Regions from separate parts of the Homo sapiens genome. Here region 1 is linked to region 2. Evidence: fine-mapped expression QTL. A gene starts in region 2. The other region holds a variant in brackets. All regions are shown on one strand. Distances are between the middles of the regions.

What was found.
Region 1: its variant is fine-mapped to the expression of RGS20 in subcutaneous fat (GTEx, PIP 0.98).

The regions. Positions count from the first base shown.
Region 1 is chr8:53,942,198-53,950,541 of GRCh38, forward strand. It overlaps RGS20 (regulator of G protein signaling 20), which reads left to right. Exons shown (of 5, transcript NM_003702.5): 3 at 4,468-4,551. Among named protein-coding and RNA genes, the nearest start is that of RGS20, 65 kb to the left of the region's middle. RefSeq lists enhancers at 2,212-3,411, 2,872-3,166, 2,997-3,046, 3,057-3,196 and a silencer at 2,872-3,166. The variant T/A (reference allele first, on the strand shown) is at 4,224.
Region 2 is chr8:53,876,584-53,884,927 of GRCh38, forward strand. RGS20 (regulator of G protein signaling 20) reads left to right here and starts at 4,289. Exons shown (of 5, transcript NM_003702.5): 1 at 4,289-4,501. The coding sequence starts at 4,433. RefSeq lists enhancers at 144-644, 3,246-3,540, 4,188-4,819, 4,820-5,451, 5,729-5,798 and 1 more and silencers at 3,729-3,868, 3,949-3,998, 4,129-4,238.

The sequences.
Region 1 (8,344 bases), 66 kb after region 2:
GGGAGGCAGAGGTTTCGGTGAGCCGAGATTGCACCATTGCACTTCAGCCTGGGCAACAAGAGCAAAACTCCATCTCAAAAAAATAAATAAATAAAAAATAAAACACAAAAATTAGCCAGGCATGGTGGCGCACACCTGTAGTCCCAGCTACTCAGGAGGCTGAGGTGGGAGGATCGCTTGAGCCCAGGGAGGTTGAGGCTGCAGTGAATGATGATTGTGCCATTGCACTCCAGTGTGTGTAACAGAGTGAGACTCTGTCTGAAAAACAAAAACAAAAAAAAAAGAAAAGAAAAACCTATACCCTGGAAAAACTTCTCACACCCCTGCAAAAAAAGGAGACATGTATGAGAAGATTCACTACAGCATTCATCTGAGTGAGAAAAATTTAAAATGGTTCTAAAGGGTATAGACAGGAGAATGGATGAATATATTGTGGTATAGTTATACAATCCACTACCATACAGCACTTAAATTCATATACTAGAAAAACAAAACTAAACAAATAAATAAGTTAGGCGTGGTGGCTTATGCCTGTAATCCCAGCACTTTGGGAGGCCAAGGCAGAAGGATTGTTTGAGCCCAGGAGTTCGAGACCAGCTGGGGCAACACAGCGAGACCATGTCTCCACTAAAAAAAAAAAAAAAAAAAGTTAGCCCGGCATGGTGGCATGTGCCTGTAGTCCCAGCTACTCTAGAAGCTGAGGTGGAAGGATCACTTGAACCCAGGAGTTCAAGGCTGCAGTGAGCTATGATCATGCTACTGCACTCCAGCCTGGGCAACAGAGTGAGACCTTGTCTCAGAAATAAATAAATTCATATGCTAGAGGGAAAAAAAATTATAAAGCAATACATGTTACATAATTACATTTATACTATGTTTAAAAATATGTTTATGAATATAATATAGTAGCATAATTATGAATTGGAATGGTAAACAGTAAGTTAAAAATGGTGGCTCTCTCTAGGGTAAAGAGAGGAAGAAATGAGATGGGGAAAAGTACACAGCAAACTTCAACTGTTTTAATAGTGAATTTCCTTGTTTTTTTTCACCACACTTTTGAGATTTATCCATATTAATATACATAGTCAAGTCAATTTTCAAGAAAAGTAAATGGCAATTTCTTTTCTAAGTACTTGTGAATCTTTCTCAACATTTTGCTGTAAGGCCTTCTGGTATTTAGTGTTATAAGGGAAGGCATGCTGATTCTTGTTCAGTTGAATATAAAGTTTTTTTCCTTTCTAGTAAGTTTTCTCTTTATCACTCAAAATTTTACCAAAATATATCTGGCCATGGGTCTTCTTTTACTGAAACTTCCTAAAACACAGCGAGCAACTATCTTGGCTACTATAGACATCTTCTAGGTCTGCTGTAACAATAACAGTGGACCGAGGTAAAGAAAACTTCACAAAAAAAAATTCTTCTCTTTTTCAAAACCACATTGTCTCTTTAAAACATTCTTACTTGAAATGAGGGAAAAAGTATATCAAAGCTGAAATAAGTTTGCATTATTTAGTTTGCAGTACAGCTTCTGGTTCTCTGAGGAACTCCTGTCAAATTCATCTCTTTTTTCCTCTGCTTTTTCATACCCACTGAGCAGTAATGTGTTTTGCTTACAAAAGAAGCCTCGGAAGTCATGCAGAGAGCGTACCACTCAGATGCCTCTCAAGTTTTTTTTGGTTGGATTTTTTTTTAAAGAAGCCATTATTTACTGAAACTATTTAGCCCTGACATCATGAAAGAAAGAAGTCAAAAGGGTTCCTGCATTTCTAATGATTTTGCCTTTAAAGAAAAATAGAGCTACACACACACACACACACACACACACACTGAAAATTTATAAAACAGTTGTGCTAAAAACAGGCTGAAAAACTTTTATAAAATAGTGTTAAGAAAAGATATAATAAAGAATATAGAAAATACAGTAGCAACAAGATAAAGAAAACCCAAATTGTCAGTGATAAAATCCATTTTCATGTTGATGGGATGCTGAAAGCATTCCTGCAAAAATCATGAATAAGGCAAAATGTCCACAATCTCTACTACTATTTAACAATGTATTTGGCCAGGCGCGATGGCTCACGCCTGTAATCCCAACACTTTGGGAGGCCGAGGCGGGCAGATCACAAGGTCAGCAATTCAAGACCAGCAGGACCAACATAGTGAAACCCCGTCTCTACTAAAAATACAAAAATTAGCTGGGTGTGGTGGTGCGCGCCTGTAGTCCCAGCTACTCAGGAGGCTGAGGGAGGAGAATCACTTAAACCCGGGAGGCGGAGGTTGTAGGGAGCTGAGATCACGCCATTGCACTCCAGCCTGGGAGACAGAGCAAGACCCCGTCTCAAAAAAAAAAAAAAAGTATTTTAGGTGTTAGCTAATTAGACAAGAAAATTAGAGGCCTGAGAATTGGAAATAGGTAAAATTCTTCCTATTTGCAGATGAAACCCGAAGAGAATTATAGCTATAACTGATACAAATACAGAAGAATTCAGAAATAAGAAGGATATAAAATTATCATTAAAATAATACTCTGTAGGCTTCAGGTCTTAAAATGAAGAACACTTCCATTTCAATAATAAAATGCAAATAAATCAATTTAGAAATGGTCAAAACATCTGAACACACATCTCTCCAAAGATGTACAAATAGCTAGTAAATGCATGAAAAGATGTTCCACATCAGTAGTCATTAGCAAGATGCAAATCAAAACCACAATGAAATACCACTTCTCACCCACTTATGAAGCTAGAATAAAAAAGACAACAGTAACTGTTGGCAAGGACATGGAGAAATTGGATCCCTCAAATATTACCATGTGAAATGGTGCAATTGCCTTGTAAAACAGTTTGGGAGTTCCTCAAAATGTTAAAACTCAAGTTACCATATGACTCAGCAGTTCTACTCCGAGGTTTCTACTTGAGAGAAACACAAATATATGTTCGCACGTACTTGCACAGGAATGTGCATAGCAGCATGATTCATGCAGCCAAAATGTGGAAACAACCCGAATGTCTATCTGCTGATGAATGGACAAACGAAATGTGATGTGTCTATCCAAACAATGAGATATTATTCAACTGGAAAAAGAAATGAAGTGCCGATACATGCTACGGCATGGGCTAAGTGCAAAAACATTACGCCAAGTGAAAGGAGACAGCCAGCAAAGATCACATACGGTATGCTCCACAACAGGCAAATCTATAGAGACAGGAAGCGGATTCGTGCTTGCCTAGGGCCGGTAGAGTGGGGAGATACAGGTGATAAGCAGTGACTGCTTACTGGTGGGGTTTCTTTTGGGGGTGATGACAATGTTCTGGAATTAGATAGTAGGGATGGTTGCACAACTTTGTGAGTATACTAAAAACCACTGAATTGTACACTTTAAACAGATAAACTTGACGGCATATGAATGATAGCTCAATAAAGTGATTAAGAAAGTGGCCGGGCACGGTGGCTCATGCCTGTAATCCCAGCACTTTGGGAGGTCCAGGTGGGTGGATCACTTGAGGTTAGGAGTTTGAAACCAGCCTGGCCAACATGGTGAAACCAAATACAAAAAGTAGCCGGGCGTGTTGGCACATGCCTGTAGTCCCAGCTACTCAGGAGACTGAGGCACAAGAATCGCTTGGTTGCAGTGAGCTGAGATTGCGCCACAGCACTGCAGCCTGGGCAGCAGAGCAAGACTTGGTCTCCAAAAAAAAAAAAATAGCATTCATATTACAACAATAACCAGTTACAAGATGAGATAAAAGTACAAATTCCATTTACGATAACAACAAAAATACTTGGAATAAGTTTACAGACAAATGTACAGAATGTGTATAAGAAAACAAACTCTTTAGAGAAATACAATAGATTTTGATTATGCACTTTATTTTTCTCTACTACTTTTGTATATTTGCCTATAAATATATGAAGCCTCCATTTTGACTGGAAACAAAGCCTAGAGGATGTATACTTTTTAAGATGCAGAAAATGAAATGAAACCCCAATACATTCCTGACAGTCTTACTTTTTTACTATTTTCATTTTTTTAATTTTTGTATTAAATAGAGACAGGGTCTCGCTATGATGCCCAGGCTGGTCTTAAACTCCTGGCCTCAAGTGATCCTCCTGCCTTGGCCTCCCAAAGTGCTGGGGTTACAGGCATGAGCCACCGCGCCGAACCCTTTTTTACTATTTTCTAATGAATGTTTTTATTTAAAAAATCATTATTCTAAGTATAA[T/A]TGAACACAATAATTTCTAACTCTTTCTCAATAGTAGAAACCACAACGTTTATTTATATTTCTAGTACCTTATTGTCACACTTTTGGTTTGCTTGGGAAAACTAACTGGGGTCATTTTTTTTTCCAAGTAGAGGAAGAAATTCTATTAATACTTGGGGATCTGAAGTTCTCTTTAAAGTATTTGTAAAAAATCTTTTCTTGGCAGGGACTGAGCTGTCAACATGTGAATGTCTTTTTTTTGCAGTCTCACTGTTAGAAACCAGGAAGATCAGAGGCCCACAATAGCTTCCCACGAACTCAGAGCAGATCTTCCAACCTGGGAAGAAAGGTGAAATCACACGTTTTTTTTACCTCACTAAACTAACAGAAATACTAACCTCTTTCTTTTCTTTGCCTTGTATGTTTCAACAGAACACATACTTTCTCTAACTGTAATTTAGTAATATCCAATCATTATGTGGCCTCGCATTCCTCCCCTGCAGAATTCCATTTAATTCATCGTGTGACAGGGAGAGAAATCAGTTCCATTATTAGTCTAATCCCTTTGCTAATTGCAAATACAAATAGATTCTTCCTAACAAAACATATTATGTTATTTTATTTTTATATAATATACTTTTAAAAATAAAAGTATATCATATAATTTTATATAAGATATAGCATATATATTTATATATACTATATATAAAATACAGCATATATACTTATATATGCTATATATATGATATAGTATATATATTTATACACTCTATATAAGATATAGCATATTTATACACGCTATATAAGATATAGCATATTTATTTATACATGCTATATAAGATATAGCATATTTATTTATACATGCTATATAAGATATAGCATATATATTTATACATGCTATATAAGATATAGTATATATATTATATATGCTATATATAAGATAGTATATATATTATATATGCTATATATAAGATATAGTATATTTATATATGCTATATATAAGATATAGTACATTTATATATGCTATATATGATATAGTATATACATTTATATATGCTATATATAAGATATAGTATATACATTTATATATGCTATATAGGATATAGTATATACATTTATATATGCTATATAGGATATAGTATATACATTTATATATGCTATATAGGATATAGTATATACATTTATATATGCTATATATAGGATATAGTACATACATTTATATATGCTATATATAGGATATAGTACATACATTTATATATGCTATATATAGGATATAGTACATACATTTATATATGCTATATATAGGATATAGTACATACATTTATATATGCTATATATAGGATATAGTACATACATTTATATATGCTATATATAGGATATAGTATATACATTTATATATGCTATATATAGGATATAGTATATACATTTATATATGCTATATATAGGATATAGTATATACATTTATATATGCTATATATAAGATGTAGTATATATATGCTATATATATGATATAGTATATATATTTACATATGCTATATATATAAGATATAGTATATATATTTACATATGCTATATATAAGATAGTATATATATTTATATATGCTATATATATGATAGTATATATACTATATATAAGTATATATGCTATATGTAGGATATAGTATATATATTTATATATGCTATATATAAGATGTAGTATATATATGCTATATATAAGATGTAGTATATATATGCTATATATATGATATAGTATATATATTTATATATGCTATATATATGATATAGTATATATATTTACATATGCTATATATAAGATAGTATATATATTTATATATGCTATATATATGATAGTATATATACTATATGTAAGTTATAGTATATATATTTATATATACGATATATGATACAGTATATATACATATGCTATATATAAGACAGTATATATTTATATATGCTATATATAAGACACAGTATATATTTATATATGCTATATATAAGATACAGTATATATTTACATATGCTATATATAAGATACAGTATATATTTACATATGCTATATATGATACAGTATATATTTACATATGCTATATATGATACAGTATATATTTACATATGCTATATATGATACAGTATATATTTACATATGCTATATATGATACAGTACATATTTACATATGCTATATATGATACAGTACATATTTACATATGCTATATATGATACAGTACATATTTACATATGCTATATATAAGATACAGTACATATTTACATATGCTATATAAGATACAGTACATATTTACATATGCTATATAAGATACAGTACATATTTACATATGCTATATAAGATACAGTACATATTTACATATGCTATATAAGATACAGTACATATTTACATATGCTATATAAGATACAGTACATATTTACATATGCTATATAAGATACAGTACATATTTACATATGCTATATAAGATACAGTACATATTTACATATGCTATATAAGATACAGTACATATTTACATATGCTATATAAGATACAGTACATATTTACATATGCTATATAAGATACAGTACATATTTACATATGCTATATAAGATACAGTATATATTTATATATGCTATATAAGATACAGTATATATTTATATATGCTATATAAGATACAGTATATATTTATATATGCTATATAAGATACAGTATATATTTATATATGCTATATAAGATACAGTATATATTTATATATGCTATATAAGATACAGTATATATTTATATATGCTATATAAGATACAGTATATATTTATATATGCTATATAAGATACAGTATATATTTATATATACTATATATAAGATACAGTATATATTTATATATACTATATATAAGATACAGTATATATTTATATATACTATATATAAGATACAGTATATATATTTATTGGTCATTTACAAAAACTTGGATTTAAACATTTGAAAATATATATCCTTCTCAAGCAAACATGAAACAGTTATATTTTAAAAATAAAAGTATATTATATAATATACGGTGGGTGGGCACGGTGGCTCACACCTGTAATCCCAGCACTTTGGAAGGTCAAAGCATGCGGATCACCTGAGGTCAGGAGTTTGAGACCAGCCTGGCTGACATGGTGAAACCCCTTTTCTATTAAAATACAAAAATTAGCGGGGCGTGGTGGCAAACGCCTGTAATCCCAGCTGTTTGGAAGGTTGAGGCAGGGAGAATTGCTTGAACACTGGAGGCAGAGGTTGCAGTGAGCCAAGATTGCACCACTGCACCCCAGCCTAGGAGACAGAGCAAGACTCTGCCTCAATCAATCAATCAATCAATAAAGGGAGAGGGAGAAAGAAAAAGCTATAGATGCTTGCCAAAAATTTAATGGTATATAAGTAAAGAAAGTGGTCTAACCTCTAAGAGAGTAAACACTGTTAACACATTTCTTTTTTTTTTTTGAGATGGAGTCTAGCTCTGTCACCCAGGCTGGAGTACAGTGGTGCAATCTTGACTCACTGCAACCTCTGCCTCCTGGGTTCAAGCGATTCTCATGCCTTAGCCTCCCAAGTAACTGGGATTACAGGCGCCCACCACCATGCCCAGCTAATTTTTGTATTTTTAGTAGAGATGGGGTTTCCCCATATTGGCCAGGCTGGTCTCGAACTCCTGACCTCAGGTGATTCGCCCACCTCGTTCTCCCAAAGTGCTAGGATTACAAGCGTGAGCCACTACGCCCAGCGTGTTAACACATTTCTTTAAGAAATGACCTGGAAGATTTGAAAAGAAATAAAATAGAAGTTTTAAAAATCAAATATTATTGTTCAAATTTTAAAAAAATTGATGATTGAAATAGAAGATTAGATACAACTAAATAAATAATTAGTGAACCTGAAGGTATCCAAAAAGACCCACGTAACAAGGAGATTGAAATACAGTTTGAGTTTCCCTTATCCAAAATGCTTGGAACTAGAAATGTCTCAGATTTCAGATTTTTTCAGATTTCGGAATATTTGCATTATACTTACCAGTTGAACATCCCAAGTCCAAAACTTCAAATTATTCCAATGAGCATTTCCTTTGAGTGTCATGTCAATGCTCAAAAAGTTTCAGATTTTGGAGCAATATGGATTTTAGATTTTTGA
Region 2 (8,344 bases):
CTTTTCTCAGATCGAATTTTTTGGCTACATTGATACTCTTCGGCTCTGTCCTTGCCAGAAGTTCGGAAGGATTCCAGCGCCCCACACCTTGCTTGATTCACCCTCATCCCCTCCCCTAACTGGAGAAGCCGCTGGGTCCCGCGCCAGGCTCGCGGTGGCTTCAGAGTAGCAGGGGAGCAGGCGGCTGATCCGGAGGCCAGTGTGGGGCCGGCAAGCGGTGACTGTCTCCAGAGGAGCAAAGGAGCCGAGTCTTGTTTTTCTTGGATCAGGTTTGGGACTTTTATTCTGTCTGACCATTTCCACCACTTGCCTCACAAGAGTCTCTGTCTCGAAGCACAGGACCGAAGCAAAATGCCTAATGAAGCGTGCCTGAGGAAGGGGCAGGGGCTTGCAAGTGACTTGGGAAGAAGGACTGGGGCGAAGGGAGAAAGGAGGTTACGAGTTCGCACGTTCTCACAAAACCATTTGAAAACATGAGCTGGAGACGCCAAATTCTGGGACCCACGAAAGGCTTTGGAGCTCGCTCGGGCTCCTCGAAGTTGGGCGTGCGTCGCAGAACAGTGCTGGGCGCTCTCTTTCAGCATTTTCGGCTTTTTTCAAGCCCTTGCGTAGGGTCGGGAAGGCCGTGGGTGGGCTCAGTCAGGCTTTAGGTCGCCAGGAACCCGGCTGGTCCTCTCTCGACTTCTTAGCGTGGGGTCCCGCCGGCCCTGCCGCCCGTGGCCGCCGAAGTTCCCGCCCTCGCCGAGGGCCCTCGCTCCGGAGTGGGGCGCAGACGCGGCCGCCGGCCCGCAGTCCCCCGCAGGTGCCGCCCAGGACTAGCTGCCCGGCGGAGGCCGAGCACGCTTGGCGGCAGCTGAGCCTCCACCCCAAGCCCCAGCCGGAGGGGCGCGTCCCCTGTCCTCCTCCCGAGCGAGACGAACGCTCAGCAGCTCGTTCCCTGGGCGCCAAGACCGATTTCCAAGTCGCCCACTTTCCCCCTCGAGGGAGCTGTTGGCGCTTCTCCAGAAGCCTCCTCGGCTCCCAGCTCCAGCCCCTAAAATAAAAGCACCTTGCCAGAGAGCGGGGGAGGGGAGCAGCTGAACGAGGAGAATGAAAATACTGGGAGAACGACCCCATTCTCCAGGAAAAGGTAATGAGGGGAAGTGAAACAGTGTGAACTTACTCGGAAATGCAAACCGAGTTCAACTCACCCAGGAGCAAACAAACGACAGCAAGACAAATCAGCCACCGCACTCGCGGCTTCCCAGAAAGGGCCTCATGAATGAGAATGGGTTGCTAGGTTTCCTTCCCTCTCTCCTGACAATCGCTTCCCACAAGACTTCCACCGCCGAAAGAATACAGGCCGGGCCTGGTGACTGCGGAGTGAGGGAACCGCGCCAGGCCCACGAGGCCGCTCGCGACCGCTCCCGCCTTCAGGACCCTGGAGAGCGGCCGCCGCGCCCCTGGGACCCACGCCCAACCCAGAACACCCGCGCTCGCCTCCCGCGCCTCACCACCCCAGCACTTTATTCGCTGCTTCCCGCCTCCACCTTCATTTTTTTTGGCAACCACCGCTCTTGTTTTTCACAGACAGATTAAATTGTTTTTTGTTTGGCATGAGGGGGTGTTTGGATTGGCCGAGCTACATTCCGGTTTGTAACTACACTAAACGTTAGTGTACCAAGAAACTAAGAGCGTCTCAAAGATGACAGTCTGAACGTGGCAGGTGACCTTAAAAAGCCACTGAGTTCAACCCCTTTATAAATGAACTCAAAAAATAAAGAGACATTCCCAAGGTTAGCCATTAAGTTAGTGGCAAGGTTGAGTGTAGAACCGTGGGTTTCTGACTTCTAAACTAGTGCTTCCCTCCACTTTCCAAAAGAAAAAAAATATCTCATTGCTTAGGTCTCCTAAGCAACAAGTGGAAGGTGGAAAGGCCGGTGTTCCCGGGAATAAGAAGGACACATGGAGTTTGGAAAGGAGGTCTGCAGAGGGTTCACTTGTAGTAGCAGCCCTAACATGGAATCCCGGTGTCCCCAGCTCCACGCAACATACCTACAGCCGCACTGGCCAGTCCCTTTTTCCAACCAGCCTGTGGAGGGTCTGAGGCCCTTCAGCCACCTTCAGCCACTATCTGGACCTTCCATAGACAACAATCCCAATAGAATCTAGTAGCCAAGGCCAACTCTGTGCCTCTGGCAGGCAGAGCCCTGGGCACTTAGGGAGATGGGAAAGGGCAGGGGGAACAAGGGAAGACCAGAGAAGGGAGGGGAAGAGCAACAGTTACAAAAGTGAACTAAGATTTTCATCCAAATTCTGAAGAACCAGGCGATGTGAACACAGACCCTTCTGCATACCGCATGTCACATTCAGCGCGCATGGTAGTCCCCTGGGAATGTTACCATGCAGATTCCGATGCATTGGCTGGGTGGGGCTCAAGAGTCTTTATTTCTAACAAGCTCCTAGGTGTTGGCGAAGCTGCTGGCCTACGGACCACACTTCAAGTAGCACGGAGTTAGGAAATACAGGAGTGGGAGGGGAAAGAATCTAACTATAGGCCTTTCCTTCTGCTTTCACCGACCTTCTCTTGCACCCCCAAAGTAACGCTTCAAAATTCTGTAGTAAAGAGCCCCATCTAAGCGGCCGGACACCACAGTAACCGTATGCTGGTTTTGTTTCTCTCTCCCCACCCCAGTCCTTCCCGCCTGCACAGCTCCCAGACTCGCCCGCCGCCCCGAAGCTGTTCGGCCTCCTTTCTAGCCCGCTTTCCAGCCTCGCAAGGTTCTTCTCTCACCTTCTCCGGCGACCCCCTCCCGAGGCTCCCCGGAGGCGCCTGGACTTCTCCCCCCTGCTTCCCGCCCTGCCGGCCGCCCGGCTCTCGAGGGGGCACGAGGAGCTGCCGGGCCGCCTCTCGCTCCTGCTCGGGGCGGCGCTGGCACTGCCCGGCCGACCCTCGGGGGGTCGTCCGCTGAGGCCCCCCCATCCGGTAGCCAAGCCCAGGGAAGAAGACGCCACCGCTGGGCAGAGCTCGCCTATGCCGGTGAGTACCGTGGTCTCCACTACGCCCCACACCCAGCCTCCCCAGGACACCAGCCTCTCCCGATTCTTCCTAACCCCAACTGACCCGCTCCGCTGGGGCTAGCAGTAGGGAGGGTGGCAAGGTCGGGAAGGCCGGGACGTGGCTGGGCAAGTCCTAGGACGGGACATTGGCGGCTCCCGGGACACCGCCCCTCCCCGCGGGAAGACACTCCAAGCTACTTTTTCCTGGGCCATTTCCTTTCCATGGTCCAAGAAAACGGGAGGGAGCCCTCGCTCTTCCCCGAGGCTGCCTTTCAAACTCTCAGCGTGTCGCTCTCCTCCGCCTACTCCGAGCCTCCCCCAAACGCGCCTCCGCCTGCTCCCAGCGCTCGCTCTCCCACTCCCCTGCCCTCTCGGCAGGCAAGGGAGGAAATGACGTGATGTTATTTTTGTGTCAGGTCAGTTTCCAGCTTCAGCTTAGCCCTCCGGGCTCCAGGGAACTAACCCCGCGGCCCCACCGGGTCCCACTCCCGAAGGGACGCTGCGGGCTACGGGGACACGCGGTGCTGCGAGTCCGGAGAGCTGGGCGGCTGGGTTCCCCCTCCCGCTGCCCCCTGGTCTACTCCTTTCCCCGGACTCCGGAGTCCCTGGAGAAGGGGACGCGGAGGGCGACTGCCGAGGGTCTCAGCGGGATCTGGAGTCAGGGGTTAGTTCCCCCCCTTATCCCCCGCTCGGTTGCTGGGTGGGGCCTCCGCGCTCTGGCTAGCTGGGAGGGGGCGAGGGCCGCTTTCCAGGGCGGGAAGACCGGAGGCCTAGGCTGCGCCGGGGTGGGGCGGGGACAGAGCTCAGAGAGGCGCCCCGGGCCGGGGAGAAGGTAGGGGGCTGCCCTCCAGAGACGCGCAGTCCACAGACGCGAAGCTCTGGGGACCAAGCGCCCCCTCCATGCCTGCCGCCCACCCCCGCTCCTTCCTCCCGCTCCCTTCATTCACGAGGTCCGAGCACGCAGTCCAGCACACTCTAGTCTCGCTCGGCCCCGCGCGCCGAGGGGAGGCGATGACACAGAGGGCTTCGCGGACGCCCTCTACGCGCGCCTGGCTTCGCATCCACACTCTTGGGACTTGCTAATGCGGGGCTGGAGCAGTGGGGCTGCGGCCGGGGTGGAGGTCGCGCCCCGCGTGGGGCCTCGGGGGTACCCCTAGCACCCGCGGCGGTGGAGTGCGCCGCCGCTGGAGGGAGGCGAGACGTGGGATTGCCCGGCCGGGTAAAAGGAGTGAGGGGGCGGGGAGGAGGCAGAGCAAGGGGAGGAAGAGGCCGGGAGAAGAGGGCTAGAGCAAAGACCGAGAGCCGGAGAAAGGCGAAAGGCGCGGTGAGCAATCGCCGACGTAGAGAGGGCAGCCCTCCGCGCTGCAATATTGAGAAGGCACCCGCGGGACGCATGCGCACGGCGGACGGAGGCGAGCCGGCCGGGGCTTCCTCCCCGGCCGGCAGGGTGGACGGTGGGCTCGTGAGTATCCCAGTTCCTCGAACTCTCTTTCTTCGTCTCGGGCTCGCCCTGAGGCTTCGTGCTGGAAAGTGGCCGAGGCTGGGAGGGGCGCGCCGCTCGTCCGGACCTCAGGGTGTCGCCGTTGCTGCGGGGCGGGAGCCGGTGCGAGTCGGGGGTTCCTTCCCGCAGTGCGAGTTTGGGGGAGTGGGGCTGCGAGTGCGTCCGCGTGCGAAGAGGGGCATCGCGCCACCAGGATCAATATGTCCCGGGCCTGCCAGGGCGTCCGCGATTCCACCTCTGCGGCTTCGCGTCGGTGTCTTGGTGGGGAACGCGGGAGTCTAGTCTTTAGACCCTAGAAATCGCATTGACCACCCGAAGCGTATTTCGGAAAGACCAGGCGGGTGGAAGCGTCGGCTTTCTCACGGGATAGGGAGAGGACAAGGAAGGGGTTGGGCGCCCGGGGCTGGTGGTTTGAGCGCCGCTGGGAAGGGTAAGGAGACAGAGCCTCCTGGAATCGTAGCGCCTCCTTTTAGGAGAAGTGCAACCAGGGCAGGGGCACCGAGGGGCAGGGTGAGGAAGTGGACGCCCCACGCGTGGACCCTAGAAGACCGACTAGGTATGGGCGTTCACTCGGAGCCTCTGTTCACGCTCTTGAAAACCGAATGAACAGAGAAGTGCCCTCCACCCTTCGCCTGCGCCAGGGCAGTTAACGTGCAGGCGCCGCCGGGATTTTCCTGGAACAAACCCGGGCACTTGATCTTCCGCACCCTCGGAGCTGCCCTGGGAAGTCGAAACAAGTCTGGGCGCCCGGACTGCGGAGACTGGAAAGCAGGGGGCGGAGGGCGGGAGACTGGGGGCGGGAAGTGGAGGTGCAGGCTGCAGCTGGGGACCGCGGTGGGCGTTGGAGGGGAGGGTCTGTGTGCGCGGCTGTCCTCCAGCGCTGGGGGAGCGGACGGGCCAGGGGCCTCTAGGGAAGCGGCGCTCCGGGACCGGGGTGGCTTTCCCGTCTCTGTGTGCGCGGCGATCCCCACACCCAGCTCGGGCGGAGGAGCCCTGAGAGAAGCGGCTAGCTGAGAGTGGGGTGGGCGTTTTGGGGAAAGGTTTGCGTGCGCTGCGGCCCTACCGCTGCTAGAGAAGTGGAAGAGAGAGAGTGGGCGCCGGGAGGGGGTCTATAGGCGCCGCGACCTACCCCATCTCCCTCCACGCTTGTGGGGGAGTGAGTGGGGAAGGGGCTTTGGGAGAGGCGGCGCGCGGGCACTGAGGTGCATCGTGAGCTTCCCGGACTTGACAGCATCAAAGGAAAATCCTGGCGAGCAGCCAGGGCCAGCGAGCGACCCCAGCAGCAGGGACGCGGCCGTGCGAGAGCTCGCGGACAGGCGAGGGGGATCCCAGGGGAGCAGCTGCTGCCCACGGGCCACGGGCGATGCACGGAGTGGAGAAGTGAACGTGGTCTACAGGATTTCTGTCCGGAAGGTGGAGAGCGCTACAGGGGAATCTCCTCGATTCCTGTCCGTCTCGTAACTTGGCAAAAGCTCGCGCCACTGCCCTCCGGCCTGGGCGACAGAGCAAGACTCCGTCTCAAAAAAAAAAAAAAAAAATGGCAAAAGCCTATCGCTCTTTGTCGAACTCCCCACGTTCCCCAGTCACCTGGCTGGGGTTCGTTGGTGTCAAAACCCCAGCCTTGGTGCCCTCGGTGCCAGCAGGACCCTCGCCCACTGGCTAGCGGAATTAGGCACCTGCACGCGGGCTCCTCATTGCCCCGGAGTGTGGGGAGGAAGGGGCTTCTGCATCAGTCTCCAGCCACCCTCCTTGGGACACAAGTGGCAGGGCCCTGGCGTGGCTTGGCTTCATTTCATCCCTAGTGGCTCCAAACCGTGGAATTGACTAAACAAATGTTCAAATTCGCAAAACGGTCTGACTTCCGCCCCAAACTTGACAAGGACATTTCTAGTGAAATTACTCTATCTGTAAGTTTTTTGGCACAACCATAGTTTGCAATTTACTATTTTTGTTAAAATATTTTTTCTCCAAACCTAATTTTTTTGGGGGTCTCATCCTGTTTATCTTCTGTTCGTTAAGTGACATCTTTCTTTCTTTTTTTTTTTTCTTTGAGACTGAGTTTCGCTCTTGTGGCCCAGGCTGGAGTGCAATGGCGCGATCTCGGCTCACTGCAACCTCCGCCTCCTGGGTTCAAGAGATTTTCCTGCCTCAGCCTCCCAAGTAGCTGGGGCTGGGATTACAGGCATGCGCCACCACTCCCGGCTAATTTTTTGTATTTTTAGTGGAGACGGGGTTTCTCCATGTTGGTCAGGCTGGTCTTGAACTCCCGGCCTCAGGTGATCCGCCTGCCTCCGCCTCCCAAAGTTCTGGGATTACAGGAGTGAGCCACTGCGCCTGGCCATAAGTGACATCTTTCTTATCACGTATTAGTAACGCATATGAGAGGCAGTGTTGCCAAACCAGTGGGAGTCTTGAGCTCTGTAACTGGGTTCAGATCCCAACCTAACTGCATAAACTTGGACTAGTTACTTATCCTCTCTGGGCGTTAGTTTCATCATCTGTGAAATGGGGGTAATAAGAGCACCTACCTCGGCAGCTCAGCAGAGCACGGTGGCTCACTCCTGTAATCTCAGCACTTTGGGAGGCCGAGGCAGGTGGATCACGTGAGGTCAGGAGTTCTAGGCCAGCCTGGCCAACATGGTGAAACCCCATCTCTACTAAAAATACAAAAAATTAGCCGGGTGTGGTTGCTGGCGCCTGTAATCCCAGTTACTCTGGGGGCTGAGGCAGGAGAATTGCTTGAACTCAGGAGGCAGAGGTTGCAGTGAGCCGAGATGGAGCCACTGCACTCCAGCCTGGGCAACAAGAGCAAAACTCCGTCTCAAAAAAAAAAAAAGAGTATCTACCTAATGTGCTAGCTGACAGCATTCAGTAAATTAATAACATAGAGCTCTTATAACGGGATGGCACATACCAAGCAAAAGCTGTTATTACTATTATTATATTGATGCTAAATTGGCTAGACTTCAAACTATAAATAAGATCAGTAACAGAATGCATATTTTTGTATACTATAAAGAGTATGCATAATGAAACACATGTCCATCATCCAAATTAGAAAAACAGTCTTTTTTTTTTTTTTTTTTTTTTGATGCTGGGTCTCACTCTCTCACCCAGGCTGGAGTGCAGTGGCACGACTGAGGCCCACTGCACCCTTGAACTCCCAGATTCAAAGGATCCTCCCACCTCAGCCTCAGGAGTAGCTGAGACTTAAGGTGCCTGCCACCGCACCTGGCTAATTTTTTAATTTTTTATAGAGACAGGATCTCGCTGTGTTGCCAGGGCTGATGAACAGCCAGTTTAAGAGAATCTGAAAATGTACCTTAGGAGCTTGAAGTGCTAACTTGTCTGAGATCACTGTAAACGTTTTAGCTGAAACACCCCTTATATCAAAAATACAGAATGATGAAAATCAGGTTACTTATTCTACCTCCTTCGTTTTACAGATGAGGAAACATTCAGAGAGGTTAAGGGTCTGGGCCAGAGATCTCCAGCTAATTAGGGGCCAAAATAGAATGAAGACTTCTGACTCATTCCCCAGGGCTCTTACACACCACACTGCTGATTTCCTGTTTACTACGGATTAATGAACTGTTAACAGATAGAAAGTATAAATAAGGAAAAAGTGTACGAGCATGTGCTATCTCTAGCACCAAGAAGGACCAGGCAGTCATGTCGTGGCTACTGTTGTCCCACAGCTTTATCTTGGTCCCTCACATTATAAGACATGACCACATGACTCGCCTCAGGTAAGGTAAGGTCACAGATCAAGCTATTGTCAGAGCCAGCATTAGCATTTTAGGC